2 separate regions of the Homo sapiens genome follow, and region 1 is linked to region 2. Evidence: fine-mapped expression QTL. Tissue or cell type: whole blood. Region 2 holds a variant in brackets; the other region holds the start of a gene. All regions are shown on one strand. Distances are from middle to middle.

Evidence for each region. PIP is the estimated chance that this variant, and not a neighbour inherited with it, causes the effect.
Region 1: it holds the start of RCBTB2, and the variant in region 2 is fine-mapped to the expression of RCBTB2 in whole blood (TOPMed, PIP above 0.99).

The regions. Positions count from the first base shown.
Region 1 is chr13:48,529,278-48,537,365 of GRCh38, reverse strand. RCBTB2 (RCC1 and BTB domain containing protein 2) reads left to right here and starts at 4,286. Exons shown (of 15, transcript NM_001268.4): 1 at 4,286-4,338. LOC124903174 (a long non-coding RNA gene) reads right to left here. Exons shown (of 2, transcript XR_007063795.1): 1 at 5,317-8,088. RefSeq lists silencers at 4,071-4,120, 4,231-4,630 and enhancers at 4,671-4,910, 5,801-5,970.
Region 2 is chr13:48,384,557-48,392,663 of GRCh38, reverse strand. The region is part of intron 17 of RB1 (RB transcriptional corepressor 1); the gene reads right to left. It also overlaps a transcript of LPAR6 not described here. Among named protein-coding and RNA genes, the nearest start is that of LPAR6, 25 kb to the left of the region's middle. The variant C/A (reference allele first, on the strand shown) is at 3,011.

The sequences.
Region 1 (8,088 bases), 140 kb before region 2:
GAGATATCACCCCACACCTGTAAAGATGGCTATTATAAAAAAGATGAAAAATAACAAGTGTTGGCAATGATGTGGAGAAAAAGGAACCTTTGTTGATGGGAATGTAAATTAGTACAGGCATTACGAAAACCAGTACAGAGGTCCTCAAAAAATTAAAAATAGGACTATTTTTAGCAATCTCACTACTGAGTATATGTCCAACAAAAATGAATCAGTATGTTGAAGAGATATCTGTGCTCCCATGTTCACTGCAGCACTATTCACAATTGTTGAGATAAAGAATCATCCTTAGTGTCCATTCATGAATGAATGGTTACTTTAATTTCCTACCATTGCCCTATTCCCTCCATATAGCCTTTGTTTCAGCCTTACTGAGCAATTTATAATTCTCAAACACATCATATTTCTTATTCTACTTAGACTACTTCCCTTCCCTAACACTTCCATCCCTAACCTTTGTTCTCTTAGCTAACTCACACTGACTCAGCCTCCCAAGTGGCTGGGATTACAGGCACCCACCACCATGCCTGGCTAATTTTTGTATTTTTAGCAGAGACGGGGTTTCACCATGTTGGCCACGCTGATCAAGAACTCCTGACCTCAAGTGATCCGCCCATCTCCGCCTCCCAAAGTGCTGGAATTACAGGCATGAGCCATGGCACCCAGCCCACACTGAAAACTTAATGCTAAAGTAATCTGTTTTGGAAAGCCTTCTCTGATCACCTCTTGGTATTTTGTCATTCTTTCACTATTGCCACAGTAAGTGTATATGTGCCTATTATCATCTTTATCACTTTTATATTCTAACACCAATTATAATACCATGCTGACATGCACAATTCTATACAGCATGGTAATAGCATGCATCAGTAAAGGTGCAGTGTGACTGATACCTCTACAAAACACAGAGCTGGGCAGTGCACCAATTTAATGGAGTCTGAAGGAATTTAAGTTCTAGAAAACTAAGGTGCTACCCAAGGTCATTCACCTAATCAATGGCACTTAGGGCACCAAAGTGCAGGCTGCTTGCAGTCATTCATTCATGCATTCAATCTGTAACAAGCAGACTGATGTAGAAATTTACTGGTGCTAAATTTTTGTTCTGGAGACGCAAAGAGGAAAAAAAGAACATTTTCCTCTTCCCTGAAGCGTAATTAGACTTTCTGAATTTCCAAGAAAAAGTCAAAAGACGGCCCCATCCACCTTTTCTTGTGATTAGGGCCTTGGTGCCTGGATACCTGAAAAGAAAAAAGCAAGATGAATTCCTCTGCTTTTGGATAACTAAAGGAGGCTTAAAGATACCCCAAAAGCAGAAGTAATTAGGGGGTTTAAAAAGGGAAGAAAGGGAAGACTTTTATTGCAGCTAGATCCCCATTGTGGGCTGGAAAAGGACAAGGGCTCCTAGTTTCACAAGAGTAGTGTCATGAACTTGTTAGGACATAAGAAGTGGCAGGACTAAAACCATGTCTTGAAATAAAATTACTAAGGGAACGAGAAGATAGAGAAGTCCAAGAACCAAACTCTGGGTATGCCAATGGCTGGAGAAGTGGTGGATGAGCCAATGGAGCTGCCAGTGAGATGGACGAACCAAGAGACAGGGGCCACCTGAAGGCCAACAGAAGAAGATGAATGCTTCAAGATGGCAGCTGTAAGCAAATGCTTCTAATGCTGCTGATAGTTCAGGTGAGATAATGGAAAAGTAACCACTGATTTAGCAATTCTGAGGTCATTGGTGACTTTGCCAAGAGGAGTTTCAATGGAGGGGTAGGGGCAAAAGCCTGGCTGAAATAGATTCAAGAATGAATAGGAGGGCCAAGCATGATAGCTCACATCTATAATCTCGGCACTTTAGGAGGCTGAGGTGGATAGATCACCTGAGGTCAGGAGCTCTAGACCATTCTGGCCAACATGGCGAAACCCCATCTCTATTAAAAATTCAAAAATTAGCTGGGCATGGTGGCACACACCTGCCGTTCCAACTACTTGGGAGGCTTAGGCATGAGAATCACCTGAACCCGGGAGGTGGAGGTTGCAGTGAGCTGAGATTGCGCCACTGCACTCCAACCTGGGCAACAGAGCAAGATTCTATCTCAAAAAAAAAAAAAAAAAAGAGGATGAATAGGAGGAGGGGATGAGGATACAGTTAGTATAAGTGACTCTTTTAAGACATTTTGGAAGAGACCAGAGAACACATTGGTAGCTGATAGGGGACATATAATCAAGGAACTTTTTAAAAGATAGGCAAATGTTGCGCAATGTTAATATGCTTATGGGAATGATCCAAAAATTAATGATACAAAAATTAATAATGTAGGATTGAGAGGTGACAACTACCTGAGTGAAAACCTTGAGACTGTAAGGAAGACAGGATCTAATACAAAGGTGGAAGAGTTGAACTTAAATAAGAGCATGCACAGCTCATTCCCAGTAATGGGAAGGAATAGAGTGCACAGGTACAGATGTAGGTAAACTTGGGAGATGTGGTGATGGGAACTTTAACTCCTGAAATACTAACCTATACTCTCTCAGAGTCTAAATTTTTAGTCTACTGAATTCAGCAATACAGTGAAGTTTAGTAGACCAAATTATCCAAAAGTGTTGAAGGAAACTTATATGTGATGGAGACATTTTTACTTCTTACTTTTAATTTTGACCGCCCTGGGAAAAACTGTTGGACCCATATAAAATTAAAATCTTTAGTGAAACACATTCTTTTATAGGTATATTTTAAAGTTTTAACTTCTGAGATAATATCACAGTTTTCAAAACACTAAGACATGTTTTTATTGTTAGCTAATTGTCAGGCTTCAGCTGAAGCACACCGTAAGGCCTGCATGAACTTCAGCTGTCCATAATGCGTAAAAGACCAAGTGCGCAAGGCAAACAGATCTTGCCATGGTTGCTGATGAAAGAAACTTAATCTCTTGGGGCCTGAGTTGCCTTATCTGTAAAGTAAGGATAATCCTTGCCTTACAGGATTATTGTGAGCTCCAAATAAGATAAACCTCTTGGCACACAATAGGTGCTTAAAAAAAAAATGCCAGCTATCATCACTGAAGTGAGCTTTTTCTGAGAGCAAACCTGTTTAACTCATAAATTTCTTTCATTGATAAGATGTAACCAGTGGAGAAACTTGGGGCAGGCACACGATGCCTCTCTGCACTATCGCTGCAACTTCCTGTTAATGTATACTTACTTTTTCTTCCATTTAGAGCTCTACAAGAAATACCTGTGTACCATTTTGCGTGCCTCCTTCTGAGGCTCAGTGGGCTATGCTCAGAGAATAGAGATAAATGTCTGCCCTATGTAGCAGAAAGGCAGTTATACATTTTAGAATGATGTTTTTCCGAAGAAATGACAAAAGCCAGACGAAACAGACTGACACGGTCACTGTGGTTTGGAATGTTAGTTTTTCTCTTTGGCTTTACTACTTTTGGCTCTACACTGTAGAGGAACCAGTGTCCTCATGAAACAGCCAGTATAAAAGCAAGTAGCTTACTTCACAGGAATAGCTAATAACATTTAATTGTTGAGCATTTAACCAAAACCCACTCAGGTCAATTTAAGTGTAGTGCAGTGGAAGAAATTATTGCACACTGCAAAGTTGTGGTGCATTTTACTTAAATCTACAAAGGCCAACAGAAGTGCAGTGTAATATAATAAATTACTGCAAAATATAATCATAAGGGGAGAAGGTGGCTGTTTTCGAAGCCCTTGGCCCCAAGGTAACTGAGGTCATCCCCCTGAACCCCCCAGCACACATCCTCATTATTTCAGCATTTGTACTACAGGGGGCTACAAGACTTCCGCCCCACAGCAATGGGGTGAAAACGTGAAGTGATCGGAGCCCCCAGATAGAGGGGCCAGCAATAGAAGAAAAGCTGGGGCAGGCTGGAGGAGAGGGGCTGTGGAAAAGGTTGCTCTCAGCATCATACACGCCTTATCCTTCTAGGTCGGGTATCCACAAATTCCCAAAATTTGCGAGAACATAACCCTGGAGAAGGTGGGGGTGACCCACGGAGGAACTCCCTGGAAAAGCGGAGGCGGCCCCAATGGGAGACTCCCGGGGGTCAACTCCGAGGGGAGGGGGCGTCTGCGAGAAAGGGGAGGGGCGGCGGTGGGCAGCCTAGGGAGGAGAGGAGGGGCGAGACGCCGTCGCCAGCCCCCTCCTCTTGTCTGCGCTCCCTTCGTTTCCGTCTCGGCCGGGCACCCGAGCGCATCCCGCCGAGGCCGGGCCGTTTCAGGGGGAGGCGCCAACTCATCGCGGCGCCGGGCCCCTGACCGTGCAGTAACCGCTACCCAGGAGGCGGAGCGGACAAGGCTCCGGCCTGCGAGGAGGTAAGAGGGTGGAGGAGTGGTGTGGGAGGCCGAGGGGGATCGCGGCCGTGACGTGGGATGCTGTCAGGTACCACTGGGGCAGGCCACCCCTCCCCGCCCCTGCGGCCCGACCTCCCCGCCAGAGACAGCTGAGGGGCCCAGGGGACTAGAGCCGCGACCGTGCCACAGGCCTAGGCGTCGTCGCGCATGCGTAAAACTGCTGGCGGGAGTTAAGAGCTAGGTTCCGGGGCTACACCCAGCCCAGGCCGCAGGCAGAGGCGGCCCTGCGCATGCGCAATTCCGCTGGCGTGGGCCCGGTGCGCTGCTCGCGACTACATCCTGCCCAGGCCGCCGGCCCAGGCTGCGCTGCGCATGCGCGAGTCCTCTGGTAGGGGTCGCGTTTGGCGTCGTTCCAGGGTGATCATCTGCTCGGAGGCCGCTCTCATCCTAAGCTCCCACGTCTGGTGTGGCTGGGGGGGCGTCACAGGTCCCGAGGGAGCGTCCTGCCTGAAGTTTCTCCCTCCTAACCCACTCGCTGCACTGCATATGTTGCCGATGTTTTCATTTCTGTGGCCTCGACCCCTAGGCTCCCGTCCCATAAATCTAGTACCCCAGGTCCCGGGCACCGGCCCGGCTCACTAACTCAGTGGCAGTATATGCTTTCGACATTTGGTCCTGATGTCCAGGAATAGCGCGAAAAGTTTGACTTTGTTAGGCGAAGCCGTTTTGGAACTGCGGAGGGATGGGAAGAAATCGCCGAGCGTCTTAAGCCGCAACATAGTGCTCTGCTCAGCCCTGGAAATAGAGGTTTTCAGACATTGAAAACTTTCCAAGTGCTCCGTCTTGGCGGAGAAAGAACTGAGTTGGAAGGCTAATTTAGAATGAACTTTTTGCTTTTGTTCTTTGCAAAAATTACATAAAATGTTGCAACAGTTCGAGACCAGGACTATAACAAAACGCATTTCATGGAGCTACTTTGTACCGCGCTTGGCGACTTACCTTGTCAGAGCTGAATAAAAGTGGTTGAGTTCACAAACAGTGCTCTGGATCGTTGCTCTTTCCCCCAGACACTGTTTAACGTTTATTGAGCCTCCTGGCTTTGCACCTTCCTAGTATTGCGTTCCTGCTGGGTTTTACACCTTACTAGACAGTGGGTCTTAGTTAAGTCAGTTTCGTGACTCCTGGGGCTACTGTGAAGAGTTTCTAACAATGTCATTACTCTGTGCTTTGTAATCTTATATGATGTGCTGATACAGATATTTGGGGGCTGGAATAGAAGAGCCACTTAGGCTCAGAGAATGAGTATTCTAGGTGAAACGTAATCTCTTTATTTCCTGCTAGACAGTACATGCGTGTTATTAAGCAGCAGGTAAAAGCAACAAGAATGATACGTTCTTGCATACCCCACTTCCACCACTCAGGCCTTATTGCTCTTGCTGGGCTCGCCAAGCGGACCCTCATCCCAGGGCGTCTGCGTTTGGTATTTCCAGTATGCTCAATGCTCACTTTCCCACTCTTCGCAAATCTGCATGGCACAGAACTTTATTTAAGTCTTGAAACAATTGCCATCATTTCAGAGAGGTGACTACCTCACCTAAAATGTCTGGCTCTCCAAACTCTTGTACTGCTGGTTCGGCTTTGTAGCACTTAATCACCATCTGATATTATATATTTGTAAGGGTATGATCAATCTATCTCCACCATAATTGAAGCTCAGAAGGTATTTGTTAATTGTAGAAATAAAATTGGAAACTAACTTACTCCAGAGATATTTTTTTACTGAACTCAACCTAGATTCATTCATTTATTCAACAAAAATTGATTTTCTATCACGTCCTGTCCTTGATGCTTGGGATGCATCAATGAACAAAAGAGACAAAGATCCCTTCCCTCTGGAGCTTACATTCTAGCAAAGAATGATAAAAAACATATTTGTATATTAGGTTAGAAAAGTACAAATGCTATGAAAAAATGAAAAAGGAGAACAGAGAAAGGGAATTGGGAGTGCAGGTGTGGGTTGCAATTTTAAACATCATGGGTACGGTGAGTCTGAAGGATAAACCAAAGGTGATGTTTAACATGGGGAACTGGGTTTTAGAAATAAATGTTCTTCTGGGAGAAAACGTTCTTTATCGTGCTCTACAATGTCTTTTATGGGAGCCCACGGCATGACCCTTGTGATAAACGTCACCATTTTTTATAGTATATAGGTGAAAAAACATTTTTTTCCTAAATAAGAGTTCAAATTATTCAGGAGTTTACAGTTTAACTTAGCACATCAAATGAAGACACTGGACTTTTACAAGGAAGAGCTAGCCAGACATCTATGTAAATTGTGCTGAGAAAAACTGTACGTTGTCTCCACAGTTTTTGCAATTGCTTCTAAATGTCCCTCTGACTGTGGATGACTAGTGAAGATCTTTTCTAAGAATGGTCATTGCTTTTCTGTATTTGAAACTGTGTAGGAGAGGAGCTTAAATCACCTGGTGTGATGTTATGCTATAAATGACCTCTCTTACAGGTATCTGAATGAACCAGATAGACCTAACTAAATTTCAATCCATAATTAAAGAAGGCTTAGAGAAAGAGGGTGATGGAGAGGAATAATTTTAGAAAGTAAAGTGTGTTTCCCCTCATGTCCTTTACTTACATAGATTACAAATACTCTGTTCAAACACCAAAATATTATTAATCTAGGACCATAAATGTAAGGAGTCCATGGAATTTGCTTATGCCCTATGAAATTGTCATATTCAAGTTTGGTTTTATCAGTTGGTTAAAGTAAAATTTAAATGCCCCAAGATACTGCTACTGTTGAGGTTTACTTGGATTTAAATTACTACAAATCAGGCCGGGCGCGGTGGCTCACCTGTAATCCCAGCGCTTTGGGGGAGACCAAGGCAGTCAAATGTTCTTGAGCCCAGGAGTTAGAGACCAGCCGGGACAACATGGCAAAACTCTGTCTCTACAGAAAAACGAACAAAAAAAAAATGAGCCAGGCATGGTGGCACACACCTGTAGTTTCAGATACTTGGGAGGCTGTAGTGTGAGGATCACTGGAGCCGGGAAGGTTGAGGCTGCAGTGAGTCATGATCACACCATTGCACTCCAGTCTGGGCAATAGTGTAAGACCCCATCTCATAAATAAATAAATAAATATTGCTACAGATTAAAATTGTCCAGGAAAAGGTAGATTGGAGACCAGGAATTATTGGGGTTACAGAGTGACATTAAGGACTCTTGTTAAAGACTAAAAGAGAGTTCTACTTGGAGATTTTACTTCAAAGGAGTGGATGGCTTGCCTCCTGGTAAGGGATATTGATAATGTCCATCAATGGAAGGCTGAGATGATACTTCCAGCTTTCATTGTCTGGAAGGAACATGTATCTAGTTCACATGGTGATCACATTCTAACAACGTGAAAGTTTCCAGGAAACTTAAACCATAATAATTTTTCAGCATTAATTTGACATTAGAGTGGGTTTCTTTTACGTCTTCAGCCTTGCTAATTGGCCTGAGCTAATATCTCTTATGTATATCTCCCTATGGAAGATGTTTTGAGCTAACAAGTACCAGTAGGAGATAGTATGTGAATAAAACATAAATTTTGACTGCATTATAATATGTCCTGTATTATGCTGCGTGTATGTATGTATATAATACTGAACAAAACCAATCTCAAGTGGAAATGAGCCAAGGCCAAGAGGGCCTGCCATGTTGAAGGAATATATATGCTGTGGGTCAAAGATCTTTAACAATTAGGATCTCTGT
Region 2 (8,107 bases):
CATATGTTCAAGAAGGTAAAGAAAAGCATAAACATAATAAAAATAGATATGGAAGATATAAAAAGGACCCAAATCAAATTTCTAGAAATGAAAACTATAGTAAGACTAAAAATACAATAAATGAGATTAATAGCAGATTAGATACCTCAGAAGAAAAAAATTAATAAACTTGAAGACATAGCTTTAGAAGGTATTCAACATGAAATACAGAAAGAAAAACCTGCAGGAAAAAGATACAGCAAAAAAAGAACAAGGCCAGGCGTGGTGGCTCATGCTTGTAATCCCAGCACTTTGGGAAGCCAAGGTGGGTGGGTCACCTGAGATCAGGAGTTCGAGACCAGCCTGGCCAGCATGGTGAAACCCCATCTTTACTAAAAATACAAAAATTAGCCGGGCATGGTGGCATGTGCCTTTAGTCCCAGTCACTCAGGAGGCTGAGGCAGAAGAATCGCTTGAACCTGGGAGGCAGAGGTTGCAGTGAGCTGGGATCATGCCACTGCACTCCAGCCTGGGCAAAAGAGCGAGGCTTCATCTCAAAAAAAAGAAAAAAAGAAACAAGGCAAACCAGAAGACAGTGGAGCAATATTTTTAAAGCACTCAAAGAAAAAACAAAAAGACTGTCAACCTAGAATTCAATACCCAGCAAAAGACCTTTTAAAAATAAAGGTAAAATGTTTTTTTCCAGACATAAAAGCTGGAAGAATTCATCACTAGTAGACATGCACACAAGAAATGTTTTTTGTTGGCTGGGTGCGGTGGCTCATGCCAGTAATCCCAGCCCTTTGGGAGGAGGCCGAGGCAGGCAAATCACGAGGTCAGGAGTTCGAGACCAGCCTGATCAACATGGTGAAACCCTTTCTCTACTAAAAATATAAAAATTAGCTAGGCATGGTGGCGTGTGCCTGTAATCCCAGCTACTCAGGAGGCTGAGGCAGGAGAATCGCTTGAACCCAGGAGGTGGAGGTTGCAGTGAGCCAAGATCGCGCCACTGCACTCCAGCCTGGGTGACAGAGAGAGACTCCATCTCAAAAAGAAAAAAAAAATAGAAATGCTTTTTGTTTGTTTTATAAGAATAGAGACAGAGTTTTGCTTTGTTGCCTAGGCTGGTTTTGAACTCCTGGCTTCAAGAGATCCTCCCGCCTCAGCCCCACTAAGTGTTGGGATTACGGGTATGAGCCACTGCCCCTGGCCAAAAAAAGTTTTACAGTCAGAAGGAAAACAAAAGGAATCTGGATCTACACAAGGAATGAAGAGTACTGGAAAGGTAAATATGTAATCAAATAAAAACATCTTTTTTCTCTTGTTTTGAATTCTCTTTAAGAGATAATTGGTTTAAAACAAAAGTTATGAGTGTATTGTAGAGCTTATAACTTCTGTCGAAGCAAAATGTATGACAACAACAGCCCAAAGGTTGGAAAAGGGAAAATGGAAATATACTATTCTAAGATTCTTATACTGTATGTGAAGTAGTGTAATACTATTTAAAGAAAGACTATTAAAGATTAAAGATTCATATTATAAATCAAAAAACAATTACAAAATAAAGAAGTATAGACAGTAAGCCTACAAAGAAGATAAAACAGAATTTTAAAAATTCAATCCAAAAGAAGGCAGAAAAAGAGGAAAGGGAGGAAAAGGGAGATGAGACAAATAGAAAATGAATAATAAGATGGAGAATTTAAACCCAACCATATCAATAGTCACATTAAATTTAAATCTAAACATCCCAATTAAAAGGCAGATACTGTTAGGCAAGATTTAAGAAAGCAACACCCAACAATATGCTGCCTATAAGAAAATCACTTCTTTAAGAATAAAGACACGTATAAGTTAAATAAAGAATGGGGAAAATATGCCATGTTGATATTAATGGGAAGAAAGCTGGAATGGCTTCACTAGTATCAGGCACAAGTAGTTTTCAGAGCAAACAATATTACGAGGGATAAAGAGAGGGTCATTTTATAATGATTAAAGAGGTAAATTCATCAAAGGACATTACAAATCTAATGCTTTATGCACCTAAATTCTATATGTTAGACATTAGATTAGGTATTGAGAGAGAGATTAGTTTTTTTTTAAGTGAGCCAGGAGTTTTGCTTTCAGGACCTCTCTAGCCCTCTGCCCCATTTAGTCCCACTTGTCTCCTGGTTACTCCCCTCAAGCACTGAAGACATTAGTCTTTATTTCAGTCACATTCCTCCTTGCTACATGTCCTGGACTCTTGCTCACTGTACTTTCTGGCTCCTTGGCCAGGATCCTCATGCACTCCCAAGATCATTTCTTAAAATACAGTAAACTACCCAGAAATGTTCTGTCTCCAGAAATTCTAAGGTGAAACAACTCTTTGACTACAACCTCCTACACTTTCATTCTCATTGTTACTCCCACTACACCTATTAAACTTCATTAAATTCATTACGTTCAACTTCATTATTTAATGAATGAATTATTTAATGAAATATCCTGTTACTTTTTGTTTGTTTGTTTTGGGGTTGTTTGCTTGTTTTGTTTGTTTTTGAGGCAGGATCTCATTCTACCACCCAGGCTGGTGTGCTGTGGTGCAATCACAGCTCACTGCAGCCTTAACATCCCAGGCTCAGGCAATTCTCCCAGTTCAGCCTCCCAAGAACCACAGGTGTGTGCCACCACACCTGGCTAATTTTAAAAATTATCTGTAGAGACAGGGTCTCCCTATGTTGCCAAGGCTGGTCTTGAACTCGGGCTCAAGCAATCCTCTCACCTTGGCTTCCCAAAGTGCTGGGATTACAGGTGTGAGACACTGCACCCTGCCAAATATCCTGTTTCTTAAAACCTCTACTTTCACTATGAATCTCCTATCTTCTCTCTGCAGGTGAAAACTCCAAAGCTTAACATTCTAACCACTCTAGGGAGGGAGGATGGGAGGAAGAGAGCTGAGTGTGCACCAAGGAGCGGTAAGATGCCAGACCTGTGAGTGAAGAAGCATCTTGGAAGTGGACCCTATAGCTCCAGGCACCTGCTGACACATAGT[C/A]GGAGACAAACCACCCAGTCAAGTTCAACCCAAATTCCTGACCCAAAAAATCATAAGCAAAATAAAATATTTGTTTAAAGCCACTAATTTGTTATCCAGCAATAGAGAACACTTCTAATGGCTCTTTTCCATCAATATTTAAACCCTACCTTTCTGATTTAAAAAATATGTTTATATTCCCTCTACTTCACATACATCAAGCTGTATCTTTACTTCTGTTATATCTTTATTTCTCTTCACAGGCAAAACTTTTGATAAAAGCCATCTATTTGACTGTGTCCACTTTATCTCTCATTCAGATCTCATCCTATCCCCACCCCTTCATTTAACAGTCCTTGTCACTGTCACCAGTGACTTCATTGTTGCTAAAACTTTTCAGCTCCTATCTGAAAAGTCTGAGTGAGCAAGCACTCACTCAGACTTTGTAATGTTCTCTCTCTCCTTTTCCTTTTTTTCAGTTTTTAATTTAATTTAATTTTATTTTATTTTATTTTTGAGACAGAGTCTTGCTCTGTCACTGAGGCTGGAGTGCAGTGGCACAATCTTGGCTCACTCAACCTCCGCCTCCCGGGCTCAAGCGATTCTCATGCCTCAGCCTCCCGAGTAGCTAGAATTACAGGCATTCACCACCAGGCCCAGCTAATTTTTGTATTTTTAGTAGAGACAGGGTTTTGTCATGTTGGTCAGGCTAGTCTCGAACTCCTGGCCTCAAGTGATCCACCTGCCTCAGCCTCCCAAAGTGCTGGGATTACAGGCGGGAGCCATTGCACCTGGTCGGTCTCTCTATGATACCACTTCTCCTGATTTTCTTCTTATCTTCCTGGCTGTTCTATTTCAATCTCTTTTGTAGGCACAGGCTTCTCTTTTCTGTCCATCCTTTAAATGTTAGAGCTCCTTAGAATTCTATCTTTAGCCTCCTTCTCTTCTCATACTATATTCTCCCCTTAAGTGATCTTATCCCTTCTCCAAACTTCAGTTACTCAGCAAAGCATAAGGATTAATAGCTTTGGAGCCAGAAAGACCTGGGTTCAAATCACAGATCTTGCCATTTTGCTTGTGTGGTCTAGGGCAAGTTATTAAACTTTTCTAAGCATTCATTTCCTGATCTAGGGTAAACTACCTCATGGATTATGATGAAAATTAAATTTAAGAAGTGCTCACCAAAGTGCCTGGCACAAGATAAACTGTCAAAAAAGGGTGGCATTTTTTATGGTCCATAATCTTAGCCTAGATTTCTTTCCTAAGTTCCAGACACACATATCCAACTGCTACTTGACACCTCTATTGAAATGACCTATAATTACTTAAAACTCATCAAATGAAATTCATCTTCCCAAGCAAACCTCATTCAATCCTAGGTATCTTATTTTAATGAATGACACTACTATCCACTTAAGTTATACAAGCCAGAAACCTGCATGTCATCATAAGTTGACTCCTCTCTGTTCTTTACCCTTATGTAATTAACTGCTACATTTTATAATACAATGTCAGATATTGTTTTAAGTACTTTACATGAATTTAACATGAGATATGCACATATAGTAAAACAAAGTTTATAAATGACTAGTTAAGTATATAGATAATAAACAATTTAAGACTAAATGAGGGAAGAATGACTATAGACTAGGATGATCAGGAAAGGCAAAATGGACCTTAAAATCTGGTCAAGAAAAAGGCAGAGGAAAGCATTTCAAGACTCAGGGACAGGCAAAAACAAACATGGTTGTGTGAGTGAAAGACAAGTCTGAGTGGGGAAGAGAATACAGGCAAGGGTTCTCAAACTTTTTGGACTCAAAACCCTTTTATATTCTTAAAATTACTAAGGACCCCAAAAGCTTTTGTTTGTGTGGGTTAAATCTATTAATATTTACTTTGTTAGTAATTAAAACTTAATTTAGTTAAAATTTAATTAAAACAGAAATTTAAAAAATTACATCCTATACAATTCACCCATTTAATGTGTACAATTCAATAGTTTTTAGTATATTCACAGAGATGATAAAAGTGTTATAAAATTGACTACAATAATGAGTCAATTTTACAACATTTTCATTATCTCAAAAAGAAAAACCATACTCTCTAGCCATCATCCTCAAAACACCTAGTCCTCCCCACCAGCCTTAGAAAACCAATAATCTACTTCCTATCTCTACTGAATTGCCTCTTGTGGACATTTCATATAAATGAATTTATACAATATGTGGTTTTCTGTGACTGGCTTCTTTCAACATCATGTTTTCAAGGTGGTTATATATTCTTCCATTAGGAAGCATAAAGTAGCTAATAGCTTTTTTACATTAAAGGATGTTGAGGGCTCAAAAGAACTTGAGAAAATTTAAAAATATTTATCTTAATAAACCCATTATGTTAACATAAATAATTTTTAATGAAAAATAACCATATTCTACAAAACAAAAAAGATAGAACAATAGCACTGTTTTATGATCTTCTGAATGTCTTCACTATCTGGCATAACAGCAAAGAGCTGAATTTTCCTATCCGCTTCTACATTTACTTTGTTGCAATATGCTGTTTAGGTTGAAGTATACAAAGAAAAATCTGGCCTCATATGGAAAGAGGAGGAGTACTTTAATAACCTTTTCAGATAATTATGGTTACTGTTTTCTGACACTACGCCAAAACTCGACAAGTCATAGTTTCTTAAAGGTTAGTTGCAGGGCGGAACTGGAAACAATCTCAATGAACCGAAATAAATTTTTCGTATTTTAAGACTTTAAAATCCATTGGTTTATCTTGAACTTTTAATGAATATCTTACCCGTGAATGATTTTATAACGATGTATTTGGTCATTTGGAAATACTGGTTCACTGAATTATGTACTTCTTGTAAATGTTTACAAATCTCTCACATTCATTGATATCACCACCGATTTCATCAGAAAAGTATTTTATATATTAGGACTCTGTCAAGCTTTCAGTGGTGGATACAAGTTTCTAAAATTCTAATTTTTACTTGAAAACACAAAATTTATCATTGGCAACCTTTACTGTCAGTTGTTTTCTTTGAAATGACAGGCTCACTTTGTTCACTTTCAAGAATCTACCACATACCCAAGCATAAATAAACACAATTGCTTATCAGTCTTACAAGTAACACATGTGTTTCACGAAAAGAGTGACGGGTTCAGTTCACAACTCAACCAATAAAATAAGTATTTTTCCTCAAGACAGCTATCATACTTTGGTATGCAACTTTCTACATACTTCAGTTTCATCACATTGAATATTAAAAAGACATACTCAAGAGTGGAGATTAAAAAAAAAATACCATACAGGTCTGTAGTCTAGAAGCAACAGGCTATTCCTACCCTGATGTGTAGCAGGCTATACCACCTAGGTTTGTGTAAGCACACTCTATGATGTTCACACAATGACAAAGTTGCCTAAATGAAGTATTTCCTAGAATGTATCCCCATCATTTAGCAATGCCTAACCAAAGTTAACTTAAAGCTCCCATTCTAGTTTTTTTGTTTTTATTTTTTATTTTTTTGAGACAGAGTCTCGCTGTGTTGCCTCAGCCTCCCAAGTACCTAGGACCACAGGAACATGCCACCATGCCATCACACCTAGCTTTTTTTTTTTTTTTTTAAGAGATGGGGTCTTGCTTTGTTGCCCAGGCTGGTCTTGAACTTCTGGGCTCAAATGATCCTCCCACCTCAGCCTCCCAAAATGCTGGGATTAGGTGTGCACCACACACCTGGCCTAAAGCTCCTATTCTATAAACCAGCATTTGGTTTCTTTGACCTTCTTTCTATGCTGGATAATTTTAGAACTGTATCCTGAACATCATAAATGTTACATTGTGAAGATCCTAAATTCTGTTATTTTTCTAAAATGAGAATGGTTTTGTTGTAAGAAGCAATTATCTTTGCTTAACTTGAACTGTTCTGTTTATTGGGCAGCAACTCCAGTTTCAGTTCAGATCTTTTGCCCTTCATTTGGCTGCTCTGAGTCTGTGACACACAGGAATTATTCAGATTTCAGACAGAATCTGGGTACCCTTTCTTGGCTCTTTCCCTTGCAGGATTCTTCCACTCTCTTCAGTGGCCAAGGTTTCCCTAGCTTCAATTTTCCAGTTTTCCTGGTGAAGAGACCCATAGTTTTCCCACTGACATCCCTGCCCTACCTTACTGTCCTTCCCTATACCTACTGCACTTAGCCCTAGACTAAAAGCCTTCTCCTCAGGCTCCCAGCTCCCCTCTTCTCTTTCTCAACTAGCATCTGTTCTTCCTGTCCAGTAATTTCAGTCAGTTACTTTTTGTATTCCAAACAGGTAGTATAGTGGTCTTTTTTGCAGAAAGCCATATGGTAGGGTCTTCTTCCAACATTACCAGATGAATATGTCCTCCACAGGAGGTTTTTTACCTGAGGAATTAGCATGATGAGATTTACATTATGAGCAGATTTCTCTGGCTGCTGTGAGAGAAATGGTCTCAAGGTAGCAAATGAGAGATCAATAGGAAGAGTCCAGAATAGTCCAGGAAAGACAGATCATATAGGGAATAAAGCATCTGACATACTTTGATTTATAAACATTTATTGAAAAAATATGATAAATTCTGAAAATACTGAAACTAAGGCATCCAAATTTCATTTCATCACCTGCTGGCATTATAAACCTCTTAACAGATTTAATAGGGCCAAACTCTTGGAAGTCATTTCATCTAACCCTTAGGTATGATGCATTCGATAGCACCTGTAATCCCCCAACTTTTCAGAGAATGAGATTTCACTAGGTTTCTCAACAGACTTTTCCAGTATCTTACACTCATATATTGCCCATTAATCTCTCTGGGATGAAAAGAAACAGAAGTGGGCTTTTTCCTTATGGATTTATTTTATCTCAAGGCTGTCAAGCAAAAATGCTGAACCCAGTTCCCCACACAACCATTAAAAATAAGATGATGTTCTTTCTTTCATTAAATTATTGGCAGGAGAGAAGTAAGCAGCACCTCATTTGAAATTTCCCTCAGTCAACAACTCTGTGTGAATATGTTCCTATCAATCTACAGTTTTAACGAGAATTTTTTATTATGACACAGAATCAAAAGACTATGAAAGCTTGCTCTGGGC